Linked DNA regions of Homo sapiens: region 2 is linked to region 1. The links come from fine-mapping of genetic effects on gene expression. A gene starts in region 1. The other region holds a variant in brackets. All regions are shown on one strand. Distances are between the middles of the regions.

Region 1 (11,457 bases):
CCCCACCACACACATGAAATTTCCAGATATAGAATTTTAAAACTGATTAATTTAACATTTGGAATATAATAAAGATTAAATGTTTTAAGTTTTGTAAATACTTCAATTAACTTCATCATAACAGTAACTGACAAATAGAAGGCAATATTCAAAGAATAAAATATTTGGCAAGGGAAACAAACACCATTTCAGTGGCCTAATGACAGAAAAGGAACACTGTGGTCTAGATGGATTTGTTTTGATCAAAGACAATAGGGACATACATATACATCCCAATTTCCCTGACAAGAAACAGTCTTTCTCCCCTGAGAATATTTTTATTTTGCTTTCAACTCTTGACAACAACAAAATCAAAAGTCAACACTGCTTTTAAAGTTTGACATCCTGAGGATCAAGTAGAAATATGTAATATAGCTTCCTTTTTCTTGTGTTCCTGCTTCGGCAGACTAAGTCCCTAGCTTCCTACATCAACAACCCCTTAAACAATTAGCAGAGGACAGGTTATAAATAATTATTATGAGTTCTAGAACCAGATCCCAGGCAAACGGATTAAGTTCAAGACACAATAGGTTGAAAGAAAGTACAGATCATCTCATCTTGGATGGATTCAGCCTACCAATTTGAAAGTGACGTTGTCCATCTGGAGTATCTTTCTTGCTATCCAGTTCCTACATCCCATCCTCCTTGCATTTTTTTATATCCAAAAATGCTATTTAAAAGAAGAAATGTAAGGAAATAGGGAAAGATGGGAGAAAATGCCTAACTCCTTATTTTTTATCTTTATTTTATGACCCAGTAAATATACCACCTTTGCAAATGATATTTTCCCAGTATTAGATGACACCCTACAAAACCTGACAGTGGCTATCATCTCTTAGCTGCAAAGTTAACATTTTCACTTTCCCTACTGAAGGAACATATAGATTGGAGCATGCCTTGTATTTCTCTATAAAGTGATTCAAAACAGACTGTAGCTTATGAAACAACAATTCAGAGATAATTTCATTTAAAATGTCTTACATCTAAATCATATGAGAAACTTTTCTATTTAGAATAAATTACAAAAGTATCGTAGTCAAACTTAATTCCATGAATGCAGTGTGGTTAATCCGGGTGAGTTGCCATGATTGTTTTCTCTCTTTTTAATATTTTGAGAAGATTTCATAGCCTTAGTGTTCTTAGGGTTTAAAAAAATGCAAAAGCATTTCTTTCTGTGAAAACTATTAAGATGGTAAATATTCTTCAAAACTATGAGACAAAAAGGGAAAAACATCTTTTATAGCTTTTTAAAAAAAGTTTTCATACTAAATTTACTGATGGGTATAACCTTCAAATCACCTTTAGGAAGAGTAGTTAAAGTGGAAGAGTTTAATATAAAAGAAAACATTTTGCTAAATGTGAAACTGGATCCATCATTTTTTAAGCCATGGGAACTGTTTTTTCTTAATAAAACAACTGTTTTAATTCTTTGCATTATCCTGTAGTGCCCAGATTGAACAATATATCATGTGACATTGAAGTTACAATTTTAAGTTATAGGCACTAGATGTAGCCTGAGTAACTGACTTATTTTGTTTGTACGCAACACTTTCCTCCTTCTGTAACCAGCTGGAAGCTGAACAATTTCTCAGCTACTTCAGATACAAGGCAAAACTGGGTAATTGTGAAGTTAGACATGTGTTTCCTTGTAAATGTCTCTCTGCAGAGTCATCTCGTTTCCAAAGCCCTAAAGAAAATTAACAGCAGAAGGCTGCCGGTTAACCATGTACTCTCATTGCAGAGTTTGCAGTGAATGTGCACCATGAAATTGCCAAGGATTTTTATATATTTCAATAAAAGCAGAAAGTAATAAGCAACAAAGGCAAAATTACTGCATAATTAGCATTTGGCCTTATCTAGATGGTATCCTGCTGAGTCCAGCCTGACATCCGCAATACTTTACAGAAGGCAGGGAATTTTCTTTCTCCTTGCCTTTATTTATCTACATAAAACCAGAAAATCCTGTTTTTACAGTATTCACAAGTCAGTCCCCTCATTCCATCATCTGTCTCTCTCAACAACTCAAGACATGGATGGGCTCTGCTTGCCTAAGGTCTCTCAGCAAACTAGAACATCCTTCTCCTACATGGCCTGCGATACTGCAGTTTCATATTAATAAACCAAAGTAACTCCCAAAATTAGCACCTCCTGTTTAAAACATTATTTCTATTTTAATACAGATGGGCCAAGGGAGCTGATAAAAATAAAAAATAAAACCTCTAGAAACCCACCCCTTTCCTGATTACTTACTGATGAATATGATCCTGTCTTTTAATAAAACAGGGACTTAAGGAAACATGCTGTGAAAAGAAGCTATTTCGGTCTGGAGTCCCTACTTTTTATAAGCAGTAGTTTCTTCTCACCCATAGCAAGCGTTGCACATTCAGTCACTTGTACCTGTGGCCCCAGCGCTGTTGTTAGTTCTGCAATCTCTTCTTCACTTTATCTTGTAGTATTCTGAACTTTTTTAACCTGAATTACCCCCAAAGCACTACCCAAAATAAAGGGACATTTTAACAGGAGTACACCAGACAGCAAGAAGTCTGTGTAGAGTTCTTGTTTGCATAAACATGTTTAATGATATAGAAAATCTATTCCAAATCAATCATTAAAATCTAAAGCGAAAAATATATTACATTTTAAATGAAGGGAAAACATCTGATTTTATTCAAGGTTGTGGTGACTCTGTTCCGCAACTTTTAAATCAATTTAAAGTTAATTCAGATGCCTTTTCAATCATTGCAGTTACACATAGGGAATACTGAACCGAAAGATGACAAGGCAATTGTCTGTGTCCAAACTTAAGAAAAACTATATTTCCCTGGACTTTTCATCCCAACAGATTTCAAATTCTCCTTTCCAAGGAGTATTTGACCTTCACATTTCAGGCCCTGTATCTCTTCATTTCCTATACCACCATATGTTAGAAAACTCAAACTGGGCTACAAGTATATATTTCTGTTAACTGACTTTAATGAATTTTGGTTGTTTTCAAAATCTGCGATCTGTCCATTGTGCCAACCCTGCATTGCAGGGAAGTCTTAGCCTGTGATTCCAGCTTCGCTCCTGCAAAGATAGTCACTACAGGCAGGTTTAAATTGTATTTACTCGGAGAGAAGAGGGGGAAGGGAACCCCCTGCCCCCTGCCAACCTGACAGGCCAGGCTGGGTGACAAGCCCCCCGGGTGGCTGCACCTCCCACTCGCCGACCTGGGCGCTGTCCTTGGTGCTGCCGGCGCCATAGCGAGCACAAGCGCCTTACCTTCTGCCCCTGCGGAAGCTGCGGACGTCCCCCAAACGTTAAAAACGCCATATCCCACTTTTTATACAAATAACTACCCCGGCCTGTTCTCTTTGTCCCCTTCCCGAAGCCTTCAGGCAGACCGTTCCGCAAAGTCTTTTTTTTTGTTTTGTTTTGTCTTCTAGACCCAGCTCCTCGGCGCTCATCTCCAGCTGCTTTAAGACAAGGGGTGGGGGAAGGGGAGGGAGGCAAGAAAAGATGAGGGTGGGGGAGGGGAAAAGAGGGAATGCAAGGGGAAGGAGGGAGGAGACGGGGAGAAGGAAAGATTGGAAGAAAAGGATCTCCGAGGAAGGGGCTGAGAGAAGGGCAGGGTGAACTGGACTAAAGGCCAGAGTAGGAAGGAGAAGAGGGGCCAAAAAAGAAGGGGATGAAATTAAGCACAGAAGATGGGTAAAGAAAAAAGTATCAGGGAAAGGGCAAAATAAGAGAAAGCCTTGAGGATAAGAGGGTAGAAGGCTAAAGAACAAGGGGACCACGGGGTCGGGGAAGCGCTGCCTGAACGGCGGGACAGTGACAAAGAAAGGGCGCTGGCGATATTCGCACCAAGGGTGCGAAACGCAATCGGGAGGTGAGAAATGGAAAGAAGGCGAATGCCCGGCTACAAGTAGCCTGGGACTGAAAGGGGACCTGGGGGAGGGGCTGGGCCCAGGGCAGAAAAGTCCAGGTTCCCATGCGGCCTGGGCCCACGTGGAGCGGGCGCTGAATCACCGTTCAGCCGCCCCCCTCCCCTCCTCCCCGACCGGTGCCCGCAGTCCCCGCCTCCTCGGCCGCCGCCTCCACGGGGCGGGGCCCTGGCCCGGGACCAGCGCCGCGGCTATAAATGGGCTGCGGCGAGGCCGGCAGAACGCTGTGACAGCCACACGCCCCAAGGCCTCCAAGATGAGCTACACGTTGGACTCGCTGGGCAACCCGTCCGCCTACCGGCGGGTAACCGAGACCCGCTCGAGCTTCAGCCGCGTCAGCGGCTCCCCGTCCAGTGGCTTCCGCTCGCAGTCGTGGTCCCGCGGCTCGCCCAGCACCGTGTCCTCCTCCTATAAGCGCAGCATGCTCGCCCCGCGCCTCGCTTACAGCTCGGCCATGCTCAGCTCCGCCGAGAGCAGCCTTGACTTCAGCCAGTCCTCGTCCCTGCTCAACGGCGGCTCCGGACCCGGCGGCGACTACAAGCTGTCCCGCTCCAACGAGAAGGAGCAGCTGCAGGGGCTGAACGACCGCTTTGCCGGCTACATAGAGAAGGTGCACTACCTGGAGCAGCAGAATAAGGAGATTGAGGCGGAGATCCAGGCGCTGCGGCAGAAGCAGGCCTCGCACGCCCAGCTGGGCGACGCGTACGACCAGGAGATCCGCGAGCTGCGCGCCACCCTGGAGATGGTGAACCACGAGAAGGCTCAGGTGCAGCTGGACTCGGACCACCTGGAGGAAGACATCCACCGGCTCAAGGAGCGCTTTGAGGAGGAGGCGCGGTTGCGCGACGACACTGAGGCGGCCATCCGCGCGCTGCGCAAAGACATCGAGGAGGCGTCGCTGGTCAAGGTGGAGCTGGACAAGAAGGTGCAGTCGCTGCAGGATGAGGTGGCCTTCCTGCGGAGCAACCACGAGGAGGAGGTGGCCGACCTTCTGGCCCAGATCCAGGCATCGCACATCACGGTGGAGCGCAAAGACTACCTGAAGACAGACATCTCGACGGCGCTGAAGGAAATCCGCTCCCAGCTCGAAAGCCACTCAGACCAGAATATGCACCAGGCCGAAGAGTGGTTCAAATGCCGCTACGCCAAGCTCACCGAGGCGGCCGAGCAGAACAAGGAGGCCATCCGCTCCGCCAAGGAAGAGATCGCCGAGTACCGGCGCCAGCTGCAGTCCAAGAGCATCGAGCTAGAGTCGGTGCGCGGCACCAAGGAGTCCCTGGAGCGGCAGCTCAGCGACATCGAGGAGCGCCACAACCACGACCTCAGCAGCTACCAGGTAGGAACCGCGGCTGCGCGGCCAGCCTGCGCCAGCGCCAGCGCCGCGCGCCCCCGACACTTGGGCTCGTGCCCAGGCGCCCTCTCCGCCGCGCTCCCTGGTGGCCGCTCGCTAGAGCACGCGCGCCGCAGACCTAGGGTATTTGCGGATCAGCGTCCTCGCCCATCTCATCCTCCACACTCCGCCCCCACCCACCTGCCCCAGCTGCTAAGGGTCTTGACCTTTTTCAGAAACGTGCATCTTTTCCAGTTCTAATTTTGCACGCTTGCACGTTTAAAGCAGGAGGGATGAATTCGGTAGTGGATAAATCAGCAACTTTAGGATAGCTTATGCAGAAACGCGTGTATTCTCTACTTTTCCGGCAGTGATCGGAAGAGCTCTCAAAATTGGCTTCAGCCCAAAGGGCTCAGATGGGAATGGCCAGGTCAGCCATGGAGTTTCCCCATGCATGTTTGTGTCCTGTTGAGACGTGTTCTAAGTCCACTGGTCTCCGTGCGTGATGTGCCCAGGAAGTGTCCTATTGTCTTACTGATCTTGTATGTTCATTTGAGAATCGCTTAGATTTAAAAGAAAAAGGGGGTGGGACGGGGGGCTGGGAGTCAGGTGTCAGCGAGGTTTGCAGAAGTGGAGGGAGACGGGAGGAGGCCAGGGGGAAGGGGTAGCAAGTGGTTTGCGAAGGAAGTTGCTGTTTGCAAGGATGAGTCTGGGGAGATTCTCTGTGTCTGTTTCAGGACACCATCCAGCAGCTGGAAAATGAGCTTCGGGGCACAAAGTGGGAAATGGCTCGTCATTTGCGCGAATACCAGGACCTCCTCAACGTCAAGATGGCTCTGGATATAGAAATCGCTGCGTACAGGTACGATGCTTACTACGTGCGTGGCCGGAACACTAACCGCAGTGCAGAGGCTGTTCCGGCAGAGCTTCCACCACTTAAGTTAAAGCAGGCAGGGTGCAGGCATCAACTCAGCACCTGGTTATCTTGCTTACTTAAAAAGAAATTATTCTAAAGAATTGCAAGTGTAGTTTTATCTCTTTTTATGCAGCTTTAAAAGAATGAATACTAGTAGAAACAAAAGGTTTTTGAATTACACAAAGGAGGTGCAGATTAATCTCAATGCACATGCTTAAACTTTTTATGGAAAAATGTTTTCAAATGCTGGAAGCATGAACAGAGTTTTGGTTTCTAATATTTCATCTAGTGGTTTCAGCTTTTCAAATGTATAATGTCAAGGACAAACACCAGGACGTTCTATTTCTCTGTTTCTCTGTTATATAGCTTACTATTGCCATCATCTGGCTGAGAATAGATATAGAATGATAGAATATAGATATAGTTCTTTTATATATGTAGATAATTTATATGTATTATATTTTATGCTAGACTGTAGTATAAATTATATCAATATATCATGTATGATATTAATCTAGATCTATAGATACACATATGTGCATATGCATATAAATCTAGATATATAGACACAAATATATATGATCGTTTTATAGATAGTGAGATAGGTTATAGGTCTATTAACTGAAGTGACCTTGCTGTTGACTAAGCGCAAAGGACAAAATCGTTGATTAAAATTTTTCTGCTACCAATAAGGTAGTTATAATATAACGAGAATAAATTGCATTTACAGAGCTATCTCTCTTTTCAGGAAAGCTGAATAACTACATTAAATAGACACTTTATGATAAAAATTATCAACAAATTTATAACTCGATACACCTGAAAATCTAAACGTTTAAGAAAGTGACTACTCTCAGAAAGGCTGTTTGGCTTTGGAGTTTGGGGGCGTTTTGTTTATGGCTTTTTGTTTTTTTGTTTTTGTTTTTGTTTTTTGCTATTTGGCCACTAACAAGTTTTTCAGCATATTCATGTTGTACCTAATGGATCTCTACTGCAGGGCCAAGACTTAGTAGCTGGGTGTGGTTAGTGGACTATTGGGCAAGGTTAGTCATTGTAGGGGGCAACTGTCTGGCAGTCCAGGAGAATCTTTCTCTGTCACTGAGTATAATGTAATATGCCAGTAAGTGATAGCAGGTATTATAGTGAATTCATAGAATATTCTACTTATGTAATTCTATTTATTCAAAGGTAGCTACCACAATACCCAGAATGTAATGAAGCTCAGAAGGCCTAGTGAAATTTTTACTATGTCTTATGTTCTTGGATTTTCTCCTTAGAAAACTCCTGGAGGGTGAAGAGACTAGATTTAGCACATTTGCAGGAAGCATCACTGGGCCACTGTATACACACCGACCCCCAATCACAATATCCAGTAAGATTCAGAAACCCAAGGTGGAAGCTCCCAAGCTTAAGGTCCAACACAAATTTGTCGAGGAGATCATAGAGGAAACCAAAGTGGAGGATGAGAAGTCAGAAATGGAAGAGGCCCTGACAGCCATTACAGAGGAATTGGCCGTTTCCATGAAGGAAGAGAAGAAAGAAGCAGCAGAAGAAAAGGAAGAGGAACCCGAAGCTGAAGAAGAAGAAGTAGCTGCCAAAAAGTCTCCAGTGAAAGCAACTGCACCTGAAGTTAAAGAAGAGGAAGGGGAAAAGGAGGAAGAAGAAGGCCAGGAAGAAGAGGAGGAAGAAGATGAGGGAGCTAAGTCAGACCAAGCCGAAGAGGGAGGATCCGAGAAGGAAGGCTCTAGTGAAAAAGAGGAAGGTGAGCAGGAAGAAGGAGAAACAGAAGCTGAAGCTGAAGGAGAGGAAGCCGAAGCTAAAGAGGAAAAGAAAGTGGAGGAAAAGAGTGAGGAAGTGGCTACCAAGGAGGAGCTGGTGGCAGATGCCAAGGTGGAAAAGCCAGAAAAAGCCAAGTCTCCTGTGCCAAAATCACCAGTGGAAGAGAAAGGCAAGTCTCCTGTGCCCAAGTCACCAGTGGAAGAGAAAGGCAAGTCTCCTGTGCCCAAGTCACCAGTGGAAGAGAAAGGCAAGTCTCCTGTGCCGAAATCACCAGTGGAAGAGAAAGGCAAGTCTCCTGTGTCAAAATCACCAGTGGAAGAGAAAGCCAAATCTCCTGTGCCAAAATCACCAGTGGAAGAGGCAAAGTCAAAAGCAGAAGTGGGGAAAGGTGAACAGAAAGAGGAAGAAGAAAAGGAAGTCAAGGAAGCTCCCAAGGAAGAGAAGGTAGAGAAAAAGGAAGAGAAACCAAAGGATGTGCCAGAGAAGAAGAAAGCTGAGTCCCCTGTAAAGGAGGAAGCTGTGGCAGAGGTGGTCACCATCACCAAATCGGTAAAGGTGCACTTGGAGAAAGAGACCAAAGAAGAGGGGAAGCCACTGCAGCAGGAGAAAGAGAAGGAGAAAGCGGGAGGAGAGGGAGGAAGTGAGGAGGAAGGGAGTGATAAAGGTGCCAAGGGATCCAGGAAGGAAGACATAGCTGTCAATGGGGAGGTAGAAGGAAAAGAGGAGGTAGAGCAGGAGACCAAGGAAAAAGGCAGTGGGAGGGAAGAGGAGAAAGGCGTTGTCACCAATGGCCTAGACTTGAGCCCAGCAGATGAAAAGAAGGGGGGTGATAAAAGTGAGGAGAAAGTGGTGGTGACCAAAACGGTAGAAAAAATCACCAGTGAGGGGGGAGATGGTGCTACCAAATACATCACTAAATCTGTAACCGTCACTCAAAAGGTTGAAGAGCATGAAGAGACCTTTGAGGAGAAACTAGTGTCTACTAAAAAGGTAGAAAAAGTCACTTCACACGCCATAGTAAAGGAAGTCACCCAGAGTGACTAAGATTTGAGTCCATTGCAAAAGGTTAAGCCATATGACAATTTCAAAATGCATGTGATTGGCAGCTTCAAAACAGAACGGGTTCTCCCATGGGGGCTCCAGACATTGTATTTTACTTTGTGCAATATGAGGGGACTGCATGCAAGCTCAGGGTGCTCCCTCCTCAGTCTTTGGGGGATTCAAATGCATGATATTGTATGTACCTGGGAAATTTGCCGATTTCCTAAGCTGTTGGAAGGGGGTCACTTAAGGGGGGATGTCTTGAGATGTATTATGCAAAGTACCAACTGAGCCAAAAACAATAAACGAAACACAGAACTCAGCCTTAAGAAAGCTATATATGAATAATTATGTTTACCTCACTGGTGCATTTAAAATGGACTTTTGTTCATGGGAGAACCTCGTTGACATGCACAGTTTGCAATCTTATGTTGATCGATGTTAAACGTCACAGCAGTACTTGCTCAATAAAGGTCATATTGGAAACATAGTCAATTGCTGAGTCTTATGTCATTTCTCTTTTTCTAATTTTTATTTATTTATTTTTATTTAGAGATGGGGTCTTGCTATGTGGCCTCAAGCAGTCCTCCCACCTCAGCCACCCAAAGTGCTGGGATTACAGGCATGAGCCACCACGCCCAGCCTGTTATGCCATTTCAAAGTGAAATCTCCACTACCTGAAGCTTTCTTGCCCTGAAATAGATTATTGGGGGGAATCATAAGTAAACTGCACATCTTATTGCTATTTCCCTGACAGCAATTACTTGGAAAACGTAATTGCTGAAGATATTTTCAGGTGTCAACATCTTCACCGAGCCCGGTCTTCATCCCAAAATTTTAAAATCATATTTTTGAAATAAAAATAAAAGCATCAGATACAAATAGGAATCTGGTGGGATAGAAATCTTCAGTGTTTGTTTCTATCCCAAAACAGAACTCAGAACCTCTAGGTAAGAGGACCAATAAAGGAGGGGTTCATAACTTGTGCCTTGGAGTTGGGACAGAGACAGAGGAGCTCATGGCATTTATGACGATGTGTCCAGTGGGGACAGGGCTGACATCACTAACACTCCTACCCGGAACTATCCAGCCTCAGAGGCATGCCTCCTGTGCACAAACACACACATACACATTGTCTGCATCACTAATGCTTGATTTGACTGACAGAGATTTACACCTTTAGTATTTTACTAATTGTGGAAAATGATATAAAAAATAAATAAAATACCCTACCTGAGAAAAGAAAAATGAGATTCTGTGACATAGGCAATAAGTGTTTTTAAATAAAAAGACATGATCTTGACCAAGGAAATACTATCATCCCCTTTTCAAAACTTGTTTTAGGCCTTGAAGACCATTAATATATTAATTAGCACATTATCCTGTCCAAGTCCATGTTTTTTCATTAATAGGATCAGCTCAATAATACAATCCTTGATATATTTTCAATGACTTTTTCAAGATAACTCCAATTTTAATGCCTAAACATACCCAGGAAGCTAATTGTTAACGGCAGTTTTTATTGTTTCCCAATCATTAGCCATTTGCCAATCCTCACAATTTTGGCTACATCTGAGTATTATCTGTACAATTATGTATTCAGATTTCTTTCTTTAAAACAATTTATGTTTTAAGTTAAGATGTTAATTTTTCTGAAGCAAAAATATCCATGACACGCAAAGTGACACAGGATTATTTAAATATAATCAGCAAAAAAAAAAAAAAACTGATCTAGTGATACAGAATTAAAAAATAAAAAAGAGCATATTGGAAGGACACAGGGTAACTCCTAGAGTGAAAACATCAGCAGAGGAGTCAGGGGTTGGGAGAGAGGAGCTCGGACAGCCCCAGGGTCAGAGGTCGCAGGAATCATCACGCAGTCACAGGGCGGATTAAACTGAAAACTCTGTGACACTTCATTGGAATTCCAGGAACAGAGCATCATCTATTTGCCACACACCTTTGCTAGCAAAGAGGAGCACCTTGATTGATAGTCTCACCCAAACTGACTCCAATGACAGCACTGCAGCTCTTCACAGAAAAGTCTGGGAGCTGTTATCAGAAGTAGGAATGGAGGCTGGAGTTATGTGATACGATCTATGTGAATTTTTTAAATGCCCATTAAATATACAATCATTACTATAAAAATACTCATTTGCACCTAAAATCATCTCACTTACCAGCACTGGACCCTGGGGCTTAGAAGACTTTCTTTTTTGGTAGCATATATTGTTTAAAAATGACAGGATCAATCAGCAAAACTCTCCAACGCAGGCACCAGAAACTTAACTCTTCAGCTCTAACTTTGTTTTCAACCACTTCATTTTCTTTCCTAAGAAGGTAAGACATTCAATAATATTGCCACATATTCCATAAAAAAAAATCACTATTTTCTATTCTTTAAAAATGACAGAACACCTCTGGCTGCA
Region 2 (11,457 bases), 93 kb after region 1:
AGCTGTGGTTGGTTGCCTTATCTTTGTTCTTGAGAGAATAGCTTGGACTTTTCCACCACACATGAAGATTTTATTTGAAAGCAGAGATACTTGCCCCTGCCAGCTACCATCAGATAAAATTAAATAGAAGGCCATACTTGTATCTCTGGGGTGCATGCTTAGTACTGCAATCATGTAAGTAATGGACATTTGACCATCTTTCCCTTTTAACTCTCACAACTCTGGCAAAACAAGAATAATTTTCTTCATTTTTACAGTGTTAAGATCTGGATTTGAACCCAATCCTATTTTCAAGGCTCTTCTACTATCTCATAAAAGAGTATGGGCATGGAGGCTGAAGAAGCCAAGATTGTTTGGATTATTTTGAATTCCAAGGTTAGGAAATCAAAATTTTTTAGGGTAGATGCAGTTGCAGTTAGAAAGGAGAATAGCACAGAATTTGAAAGCACAGACAGAAATCTTACAGTCTGGGTCAGACCCTGACTCTGCAGCTTACCATCTACTAGAAATTACTTAACCTTCCAAACTTTATTGTTTTATTCTAAAAATGGGGCATAGCAATAACACCCACCTCACAGTTTCACTGAGGGGCTTAAATTAGATGCATCTGCAATGCTTAGCACAGGGGTGGACAGAGGTGCTTAATCAATGATAGATGATGTTCTTATAAATACTAAGATCAAAGAAGAGGAAAATTTGGCTTCTTAAACCAACAACACTTCTATTTCCATTCTTGGCTTCTTCTCCTGTATCCAGACAGGCTGATTTCAGTTTAGGAAAAAGCATACCATGTACTATTTCCCATCCTAACATTTTTATGCAAGTAAAATCAGTTTAAACAAAGAACAGACTTAAAAGAGTAAGTCACAAAACTTGTAGCCTTATAAACTGTGCATGTCGGGGCTTATCCTTTTTGGTGAGGTCATTTGATGTTTGGGAAAGAGTTCTGAAGTCACACAGACCTACCCAGCTTTAGGACTTCACCATGGACTGCTGCGAGCTAGTATAAATTATTTAATCTCTCAAAGCCTCGGGGTTTTTATTTATTCAAGACAAAGATTAATAATATCATCTTTCCAAAGTCACAGTAAGAATTAAGCCATATTATGTATGTAAAAGTGCTTAGCAGAATTCTTGGCACATCACTGTTCCTGAATAAATGAAACTTTATTTTCCTTCTTTCCTTGGTCATGATGAGAATTGACTGGGTTATCTATTGATTATTTTGTGCATGAGCCTGTGATCAATCATTCTTCTTCCACAGATAGAAATGTGCACGCATATTAAGGTTAACAAGATTTGTGGTTGTGAAGTATAATTCTAAAGCCTCACAAGCATGAAGGGTGTGTGGACGTTTTCCTGAGTCATCCTAGGGAACAAAAGGGAGTGGGCAGAGCTAGTTACCAGAGTTGGAAAGGGATGCATCAGTCATTACATTCAGGGGCTGTTAGTTGGTTCCTTTTGCAAATGGGCTGTGAACTGCAGATGTCCCTGGGAGAGAAAATAGAAAATTACTAGCAAATTCCTAAGAGAACCTGGCCTCTTTAAAGAAGAGAAGACACATTGAGCTGGGAGTTGGAGGAGAAATGAGAAATTGAGCCACAGACTCTGAAAGATATCATCTGCCAAGAGGGAGATGAGGCTTTAAAAAGAACTTTAAGGATTTGTACATCTAGTCATGATGCAGTAACTGGTACTGGACTAGTTTTTTAGCTTTAAACAACTAGAAAGCCAGGAGAAAATATTTGAGGCTGGCAGTGGACAACAGACAGCCAGAGATGGTTATTTCTGAGAGAGAAAAACTTACAAGGTGAACCCCCAAATCATCCAGCTCTCTGCTGGAAGAGATTTTTCTAACTGTAGCACAGAGAGCTGAGGTCCAAGCAGGGCTCAAGAGTTGGGCCGAACAGAGAGAGAACAGAGTTTAGCAAAGCTGAAATAGTTGAATCTGCAGGGTGGAGCATCAACAAGGAGGTAGCTTTATAGAGAATACTACCCTAATCCCATATGAGGACCCCTTGTGAGGTCATGACTGCGGACTGGGCTGTAGATGAGCAGGAGACCACCTGGGACTCACAGGTTAGCAAATATTTGTGGGGGAAAAGATACTAGCAATGCTGGGGGAAGAGTTGTGCCCAAAGACTTTGGAATTCTGACCTGGAAAGAATAGAGATTTCAAAAACACTTTATTAACACTCCTGAAATCCAGCTAAGACACCAGAACTGCTTTTGTTTAGCAATAAGGGCTAACCTCTACAGCGGGGATGAGCAAACCTTTTTGTAAAGGGCAATATGTTCAATAATTTTCACTGTGCAGACTATATGGTCTGTACTGCAGCTACTCAACTCTGCTGTTGTAACAGAAAATCAGTCATAAAAAAATACTCAAATTAATAGCATGTCTGTGTTCCAAGACTCATTTCCAATATTTTCAAAAATAGAGAGTAGGCAGGATTGGTCTGAGGGTCAAAACATGCTCGTTCTAGAGTAAGACCTATTCCAGAATTGCAGTAACACAGCCTAAAACGGAGCCTTGACAAATAATTGGGGGGTGGGGAGTACAGAATTTGAAGGCCAAGTCCCATCAAGGTAGAGGAACTTGGGAAATGACTTGATTAAGGTGATCAGCCAGTAATTGAACTGCTTGCTAAACAATAATTAGCACTCTTCAGAGGAAGATAACAGAATTTAGAATTTCTTCAACATACTATTCAAAATCTAGTATTCAATTAAAAAAATCACTAGACAAACAAGAAAGTAAGAAAATATGCTCTGTAGTCAAGAAAGATAGCAGTCAATAATAACCAACCTGATGGCTCAGAGATTGAACTGAGCAGAAAAATATTTTATATCAGCTTTGATAAATATATCAAAAAATTGAATAAAAATGTGTTCAAAGAATGAAAGAAGCTGGTACAGTTGTGCATGCCAGTGCATCCTAGCTAGCCAAGAGGCTGAGACAGAAAGATCTTTTGAGCCCAGGAGTTCAAGACCAGCCTGGGAAACATAGTGAGACCCCATTACTTAAAATTAAAAAAAAAAATTTAATGTAAGAAAAAGCAAGGTCTGAAAATGAAGAAATAGGAAATCTTAGCAGAGAAATGAAAACTGTAATGAAAATAACTATCTCAAAATTCTGGAACTGAAAAGTACATTAACTAAAATGAAAAATCTAACAGCTTATTAGAGATGGCAAGAAAAAAGAATCAGTGAACTTGAAGATGGATTAGCTGAAACTATTCAACCTGAAGAAACAAGAGAAAAGAGACTGAAAAAAAATAAATGCAAACTCAAGGAACCGTGGAACAACACAAATAGTCTAACATACATAATTATAATTAGAAACTTCAGAAAGAAAAGAGAGTCAGATTAGGCAATTTTGAAAAAAAATCCCAAAACTGATTATATTACAGATCCAAGAAGTTTGACAAATACAAAACAGGATAAACATTTTTTAAACTACTCGTAGGCATATTACAGCCAAATTGCGGAAAAATCGAAGATGAAAAAAAAAGTCTTATAGCAGCCAGAGAAGACACACTGCATACGTCGAACCAAGGATAACAATGATCACTGATTTCTTATGAGAAAGTGTCCGGAAGACAACAGAAAGACATCTTTTCAAGTTGGACCCAGTGGCATGTGCCTGGAGTCCCAGCTAGTTGGGAGGCTGAGGCAAGAGGGTCACTTGAGCCTAGAAGGTTGAGGCTGCAGTGAGCTATGATCAAGCCACTGCACTTCAGCCAGGGCAGCAGAGTAAGACACTTTGTCAAAAACAAAAGAAGGAAGGAAGGGAGGGAGGGAGGGAGGGCAGGAGGGAAGGAGGGAGGAAAAGAAAGAAGAAAGAAAGACATCTTTTCAATGCTGAAAAAAAAAGTAAAGTCATAATTATGTGTCCAATGAAAAGATCCTTGGGGGAAAAAAGAGATCAATAAAGACATGTTCTGATAGATGAAATCTGAGACAATTTGTTACTAGCAGACCTGCACTATAAGAAATGGTGAAGATCCAAGGACTAAGGTAAAATGGTACCAGATGGAAGATCTATAGGAGGAACAAAGAAGCTGGAAATGGTAAATAAATGGACAAATATAAAAGAGAACCCAGGTCCAGACATTCTTAGAGAAGCCTCCCTGAAGGTAATTGTTCTTATGCCCTGGCTGGTACAACTGCTGCAGATGGGACGCTAGCCTGTACTGAGTACTTCCTGCGTGATAGGTAGCAGGCTAGACACTATCTATCTAAAAGCTGATTTAATGTACACATCAACACTGTGGTAGAAATTACTATTTCCTACAGCTATGGTCCATAGTTGAAGAATTTGGAAGCAGGTCCTGGTAGGATATTGCTTGAGTCCTTTGGTCCCAGTCCAAGTCAGTTTCATATCTACTCAAGACAGAGAAATTTTAGCACAATCTGATGGCTTCTAGAGTCATCTCAGTATAACCTAGCAAAGGATCTAGAAACTGTGATGGACTATTCATTCCTTAAGCACTTACTATGTGCTAGACATTGCAGTATACACGATTTTATTTTAATGTAGACTTTGTGCACATTGTTTCTTGTTTTTTTGTTTTGTTTTGTTTTTGATTTTGTTTTTGTTTTTGAGACAGAATCTTGCTCTGTTGCCCAGGCTGGAGTGTAGGCTCACTGCAACCTCTGCCGCCCGGGTTCAAGTGATTCTCCTGCCTCAGCCTCCTTCCTGAGTAGCTGGGATCACAGGTGCCCAACACCATGCCTGGCTAATTTTTGTATTTTTAGTAGAGACGGGGTTTCACCATGTTGGCCAGACTGGTCTCGAATTCCTGACCTCGTGATCCATCCAACTTGGCCTCCCAAAGTGCTGGGATTACAGGCATGAGCCACCGCGCCTGGCCCTGGTTTCATTTTTTAATCTCTACAACAAATTTAAACTGGTACAATTATTCCCATTTGACACATGAGGAAACTGAGGTTTTCAGAGGTTAGGTCATATTCTCCTGGTCACACAGCTGGTAATGTTAAAAATCATGTCAGTCTGATACCAAAGCTCGTAACCACTAAATTGTAACATGATCCTAGGATGAGGGGAAAAGAAGAAAAAGTGAAAGTTTACTGCTAATGGATGACAAGGAGGCAAGTAACTGAAAGAATCATCAGACTTTAAATTCATTCTCAGGAAAGCTTGAGGGAGATGACCCCTGATGCGTGTGTGGTAGAAGCTCCAAATTTTACAGAAATGTAGGTTAAAGCCACTGGGGCCTGTGTGAAGGAGAAAAGAGGGATCACACCGAAACTGCTCCAATTAGGAGTGTCTCTACAAGGGCTTAAACTGGTAGTGTCCTTGGTTAAATCTCTGATTATTTTTCATATCCAGTGTTTAAATCATGAATGGAGCCCTCAGGGGTGGCACTGCAGTTAGCAACGCAGGCTTTCCAGGGAAATGTCTTTACTGATTGTTTCCCTGGAAACGGTTAGGCTTCCATTCTGCTGAGTACCCCCCAGCACTCTCCAAGTTCCCTCTGTGTTGGAAGTCTCTGTTTAGAGTGGGAGGAGGAAACATGTATCAGCTGCAACTTTCTAAAATGTTGCACTTTGTTGCAATAAATGCCACTATTTCTGAAGCTGTCACAAATGTTGCAACACTGTCACAATAAATAATCACTATTTCTGAAGCTGTTGCAAAATGTTGTGATATTGTTGCAATAAATATGTTGTTTATGAAACTGTTGAA[T/C]TTATTAGAAATGTACTTTGGAGGCCGGGCGTGGTGACTCATGCCTGTAATCCCAGCACTTTGGAAGGCCAAGGCGGGCGGATCACGAGGTCAGGAGATCAAGACCAGCCTGGCTAACACGGTGAAACCCCGTCTCTACTAAAAATACAAAAAATTAGCCGGGCATGGTGGCGGGCGCCTGCAGTCCCAGCTACTTGGGAGGCTGAGGCAGGAGGATCCCTTGAACCCGGGAGGCGGAGGTTGCAGTGAGCTGAGATCGCACCACTGCACTCCAGCCTGGGTGACAGAACGAGACTGCTTCTCAAAAAAAAAGAAAAAGAAAAAAGAAAAGGAAAGAAATGTACACTGGAAAAGGGAAAGTGTGTGTTGGGTATTAGGCGTAGCAGAATTCCTTCTTTCCTCCCCAGTGCTATGGAGATATAAAGTTCAAGAACACAACATGCGTGCTTTCGAGGAGCGTATCATTATTCAGGAAGTCAAGACACCAGTGAATGAAAAGAAAACTCACTTTCTGCAATAGCGCAAAAGAGCAGTGAAGATGGTGCTCAGATGAACTGTAAGTGTTCAGATGAGGGAAACCATGGAAGACATCATGGAGGAGGTGAGACTTGTACAGGAGGTGAGAGTGAGCTGTTGGGAAGATATTCAGAATTGAGGGGCAAAGAGACGGGTAGTTTTCATGGGTGGACTTCAGGAGATTTGTGATCCATCTGAATTTACACACTAACATCCATGTATTTGTATATTTTTCTGGAAAGAGCAACCGATTGCATAAAGTTCTCAAGGAGTCTTTAGCAACCTAAGAAGTCAGAAAAAAAAAAAAAAAAAGACAGTACCGTAGAGGCCAGAAAATTATCAACAGCTTTATCATGGGTCTTACAGAAATACACCATCACCTTGGGTTACCTTTTTTTTTTTCTAATTACCTATAAGTAATTTAAAAGTGGATAATTTCAACGTTATGGGGAGGGTCTCAAGGTCAGCAGGGTGGGGCACACTGGGGATAGAGAGGTCTTTTGGCACTGCTATACACTGAGTAGGTGACTGACTGCCTCTTTGGGAGCCCACTGTCTCATAAATTCTTGAATCAGGGAACACTTGGGGTCTGTCATAGGGAACCAGGTGCCCTGATTTGTGAAACGTCAGCTATAGTAATTTCCTGGTATGCATATATAAATAATATTTGACCTCTGTGTGGAAATAAAAAGGTTTTCACCTTGCACTCCTAGACTGTGATGCTCCACAGTCATTGGTCTGCCTATGAAACTTTTTCTTTTTCTCCTTTTTTTTTTTTTTTTCGAGATGGAGTCTCGCTCTGTCACCCAGGCTGGAGCCTCCCGAGTAGCTGGGATTACAGGTGCCTGCCACCACTCCTGGCTAATTTTTCTTGTATTTTTAGTAGAGATGGGGTTTCACCAAGTTGGCCAGACTGGTCTTGAATGCCTGACCTCGTGATCTGCCAGCCTCGGTCTCCCAAAGTGCTGGGATTACAGGTGTGAGCCACCGCACCAGGCCACTTTTTTTGTTTTTCAAAATTTTTGTAGAGACAGGCTCTCACTATGTTGCCGAGGCTGGTTTCAAACTCTTGGCCTCAAGTGATCCTTCCTCCTGGGCTTCCCAAAGTGCTAAGGTTACAAGTGTAGCCACCACAGTGGGCCTAGGAAGCTAATTTAATACAAACCCCATCTCCCTCTCTGCTCACAGCAACCTCATCTTCCATTCCAATTCCAGATTTCTTCTGTTCCTGGTAGAATTGTGAGATGCTGCATCTGCGTTCCAGCTTTCAAGAATATAATCTATCATCTGAAAACTTAAAGTCTTTTTTTAAAAAAATTAGATCAAAGCAGAGAGAAAATGATCTTCAAGTTTCTTTACCAAACTTGGTATGTTCTTTTGGACTGAAAACTGATGGAGTTGGAAGTGACTTTTGTAGTGAAAATGAGGCTGGAGTAATTAATATTGTTCCAGTGTTCTGGTTATGCGCAGGAGTGAATCATGATACCCAAATTACAATGACTCATCTCTTCTGAGAGAATAAATTGTGATTCTATGAAAGTTTTGCTTCACTAGGAATTTTTTGAAGGGTTCTGTTTGTTCTAGTTTAGAAACCTACACAGGCAATATGGGCTTTGCAAAGGTATAAAATTTTCTTAAATAAAACTAAACAAAGATCTATTTTGATTTTCAGCGTTGGATTTTTTTTTTTTCTTGCCTTTCCTTTGCTTCTGGGAGAAAGTATCTTCAGACAGGAAGCTTTGAGCTACTCATAAATTCTCCCTAACACTGCAGAAACATATTTCACTATGAAATGGTGGAGATGACAGTAAGAGCCTCTTGTTTGAGGGGCAAAGCTGAGACATCCTGAATGCTATGGAAGTTTAATCTTCCATGCTGACGCAATCACGGGAATATTGTGCTCCTGGGGTTTTCTTTATTGCCAGCTACTGTCTAATGCCAGGACAAAAGGAATAATTTGATTACAGCCGAGGAAAGCACAGTTTGTTCCTGTTACTTTTAAGTTTCTTTCTGTTTTTCATTTGTTTTGAAATGAGAGATTGAGAACTCAGAATGTATTTGGTACAAAATGAAAGATAACTACTGCCTAGAGCTATATGGCAAAGACTGCAATATTTAGGGTGGCTCGAATAAAAGGAGCTCTCTGCTTCTTATCTAGTTAACAAAATGATAAAGGGATCCTGTCTGGCATATGCGATTAATTCTCCCTTAGGAAAGGGACATAAATTATTCTTAATTGCCGAGTTATGGGTCTGTTATAATTAAAGTTTGTTACTGGGGGTAAAATGACACCAAGGGAGCAAAGACTGGACAATCTGCCCACATGGGAATGTGTCTTCACCTGAACTTGGACCCATTTGTGAATCAGCAAAACTTTAGCTTTCTTCCTCCATCCTGTGCTCCTTCTGTTATGAAACCTCATTGGCTCCATTCTTCCCAAAAGCTTATTTCTGTCTGTGAACTTTCCTACCCATGTTGAGGTCGTATTCTGTCAGTGGAGAGGAGGACTGAGTCTCTTCTCTTTTGGATGCAACTTGAAACCTGAAAATCTGAAAGGGGAGAACATTCTCCAAATCTACAAATAGCAGATTGGCTTAATTTTGAAGCCTTCTTGTCCTCAAAAGAAAAAGGGGTGGGGTCAGGGTAGAAAGAGTTATACAGTCATTTTAGGTTTTGCACTTGGGATCAATGAAGGAGTTTGTTTGCCTTAGGATGGGAAAAACTTTTAGAGCCCCCTGGAGTTCAGTGAGCCAGATAGGTGATCAAGTCTCAGGATGAAGCCAATGCTACAGGTACTGATGATAACATCAAACAGGTCTCAGGGTCTCCAAAGTTTAGTAGGGACCTTGAGACACCATGGAGACCACTCCTATACTTTCCCAACATTTGTATATTCTCAGACAGCTAAGAACCCATCAGCTTTATGAAGCCTTCCTGAAAGAGAGGTTCTGCAGAAATCTTATCTCCCCAACTAGCATGTTAGTACTTCATGGAAAGAAACTGTGTATTGGATTGATTTTTAATTTTTTAGTTTTTAACTTTTGTGGTACATAATAGGTATATATATTTGTGAGATACATGAGATGTTTTGATACAGGCATGCAATATGTAATAATCCCATAAAGGAAAATGGGGTATCCATGCCCTCAGGCATTTATCCTTTGTGTTACAATCTAATTTTACTCTTTTAGTTAGTTAAAAATGTACAATTAAATTATCTTTACTTGGACATTGTTATATCAACATTGTGTAGTAAAGTTCTGTGCACAGTTTAGATGTTTAATGCATATTTAAGGCCTAACTGAACATGTTCCTTGAACCTTTTTCTGGCACCTGCCCTCCTTAACCCACTAAGTTTGAGAAGAAATTGGGAGATGAAAGATGGTCCAACTACCTTCCCGTCCCTCAGTTTATATCACGCTATGGTAAACTCGTGGCATCAGAAGTATTTATCCTCAACCCTCCAGCCTCCCCTTCCTAGTATCCCCTCTTAACACCAAATAACCAATGAATAGAGGAGTAGGTACAGACTAGAGAGCCTGGGCTCAGCTGCAGCCCAACTTAGCAGTGTTTCAGTTGAAAAGAACTTCTTCTCAGGCAAGAAATAACTAAGATCAGAGCAGAACTGAAGGAAATAGAGACACAAAAATCCCTTCAAAAAACTAATGAATCCAGGAGCTGGTTTTTTGAAAAGATCAACAAAATTGATAGACTGCTAGCAAGACTAATAAAGAAGAAAATAGAGAATAATCAAATAGACTCAATAAAAAGTGATAAAGGGGATATCACCACCGATCCCACAGAAATACAAACTACCATCAGAGAATACTATAAACATCTCTGCGCAAATAAACTAGAAAATCTAGAAGAAATGGATAAATTCCTCGACACATACACCCTCCCAAGACTAAACCAGGAAGAAGTTCAATCTCTGAATAGACAAATAACAGGCTCTGAAATTGAGGCAATAATCAATAGCTTACCAACCAAAAAAGTCCAGGACCAGATGGATTCACAGCCGAATTCTACCAGAGGTACAAGGAGGAGCTGGTACCATTCCTTCTGAAACTATTCCCATCAATAGAAAAAGAGGGAACCCTCCCTAACTCATTTTATGAGGCCAGAATCATCCTGATACCAAAGCCGGGCAGAGACACAACCATAAAAGAGAATTTTAGACCAATATCCTTGATGAACATTGATGCAAAAATCCTCAATAAAATACTGGCAAACTGAATCCAGCAGCACATCAAAAAGCTTATCCACCATGATCAAGTGGGCTTCATCCCTGGGATGCAAGACTGGTTCAACATATGCAAATCAATAAATGTAATCCAGCATATAAACAGAACCAAAGACAAAAACCACATGATTATCTCAATAGATGCAGAAAAGGCCTTTGACAAAATTCAACAACTTTCATGCTAAAAACTCTCAATAAATTAGGTGTTGATGGGACATATCTCAAAATAATAAGAGCTATCTATGACAAACCCACAGCCAATATCATACTGAATGGGCAAAAACTGGAAGCATTCCCTTTGAAAACTGGCACAAGACAGGGATGCCCTCTCTCACCACTCCTATTCAACGTAGTGTTGGAAGTTCTGGCCAGGGCAATCAGAGAGGAGAAGGAAATAAAGGGTATTCAATTAGGAAAAGAGGAAGTCAAATTGTCCCTGTTTACAGATGACATGATTGTATATCTAGAAAACCCCAGCGTCTCAGCCCAAAATCTCCTTAAGCTGATAAGCAACTTCAGCAAAGTCTCAGGATACAAAATCAATGTACAAAAACCACAAGCATTCTTATACACCAATAACAGACAAACACAGCCAAATCATGAGTGAACTCCCATTCACAATTGCTTCAAAGAGAATAAAATACCTAGGAATCCAACTTACAAGGGATGTGAAGGACCTCTTCAAGGAGAACTACAAACAACTGCTCAATGAAATAAAAGAGGGTACAAACAAATGGAAGAACATTCCATGCTCATGGGTAGGAAGAATCAATATCGTGAAAATGGCCATACTGCCCAAGGTAATTTATAGATTCAATGCCATCCCCATCAAACTACCAATAACTTTCTTCACAGAATTGGAAAAAACTACTTTAAAGTTCATATGGAACCAAAAAAGAGCCCACATCACCAAGTCAATCCTAAACCAGAAGAACAAAGCTGGAGGCATCACGCTACCTGACTTCAAACTATACTACAAGGCTAC

Alleles and levels. Alleles are on the strand shown, and positions count from the first base shown. SD is a standard deviation of normalised expression in the study named.
With allele T in place of C in region 2, the expression in fibroblasts of the gene that starts at base 4,186 in region 1 is lower (small effect, 0.27 SD a copy in GTEx).

The links.
Region 2: its variant is fine-mapped to the expression of NEFM in fibroblasts (GTEx, PIP 0.98).

Annotation. Positions count from the first base shown.
Region 1 is chr8:24,909,576-24,921,032 of GRCh38, forward strand. It overlaps NEFM (neurofilament medium chain), which reads left to right and starts at 4,186. Exons shown (of 3, transcript NM_005382.2): 1 at 4,186-5,298; 2 at 6,030-6,154; 3 at 7,486-9,518. The coding sequence starts at 4,219. The coding sequence ends at 9,031. LOC112268023 (a long non-coding RNA gene) reads right to left here. Exons shown (of 3, transcript XR_002956698.2): 2 at 11,209-11,360; 3 at 10,529-11,080. RefSeq lists an enhancer at 3,830-4,603.
Region 2 is chr8:25,002,274-25,013,730 of GRCh38, forward strand. LOC105379330 (a long non-coding RNA gene) reads left to right here. Exons shown (of 3, transcript XR_949591.2): 2 at 6,121-6,314; 3 at 7,445-7,768. Among named protein-coding and RNA genes, the nearest start is that of NEFL, 51 kb to the left of the region's middle. The variant T/C (reference allele first, on the strand shown) is at 5,714.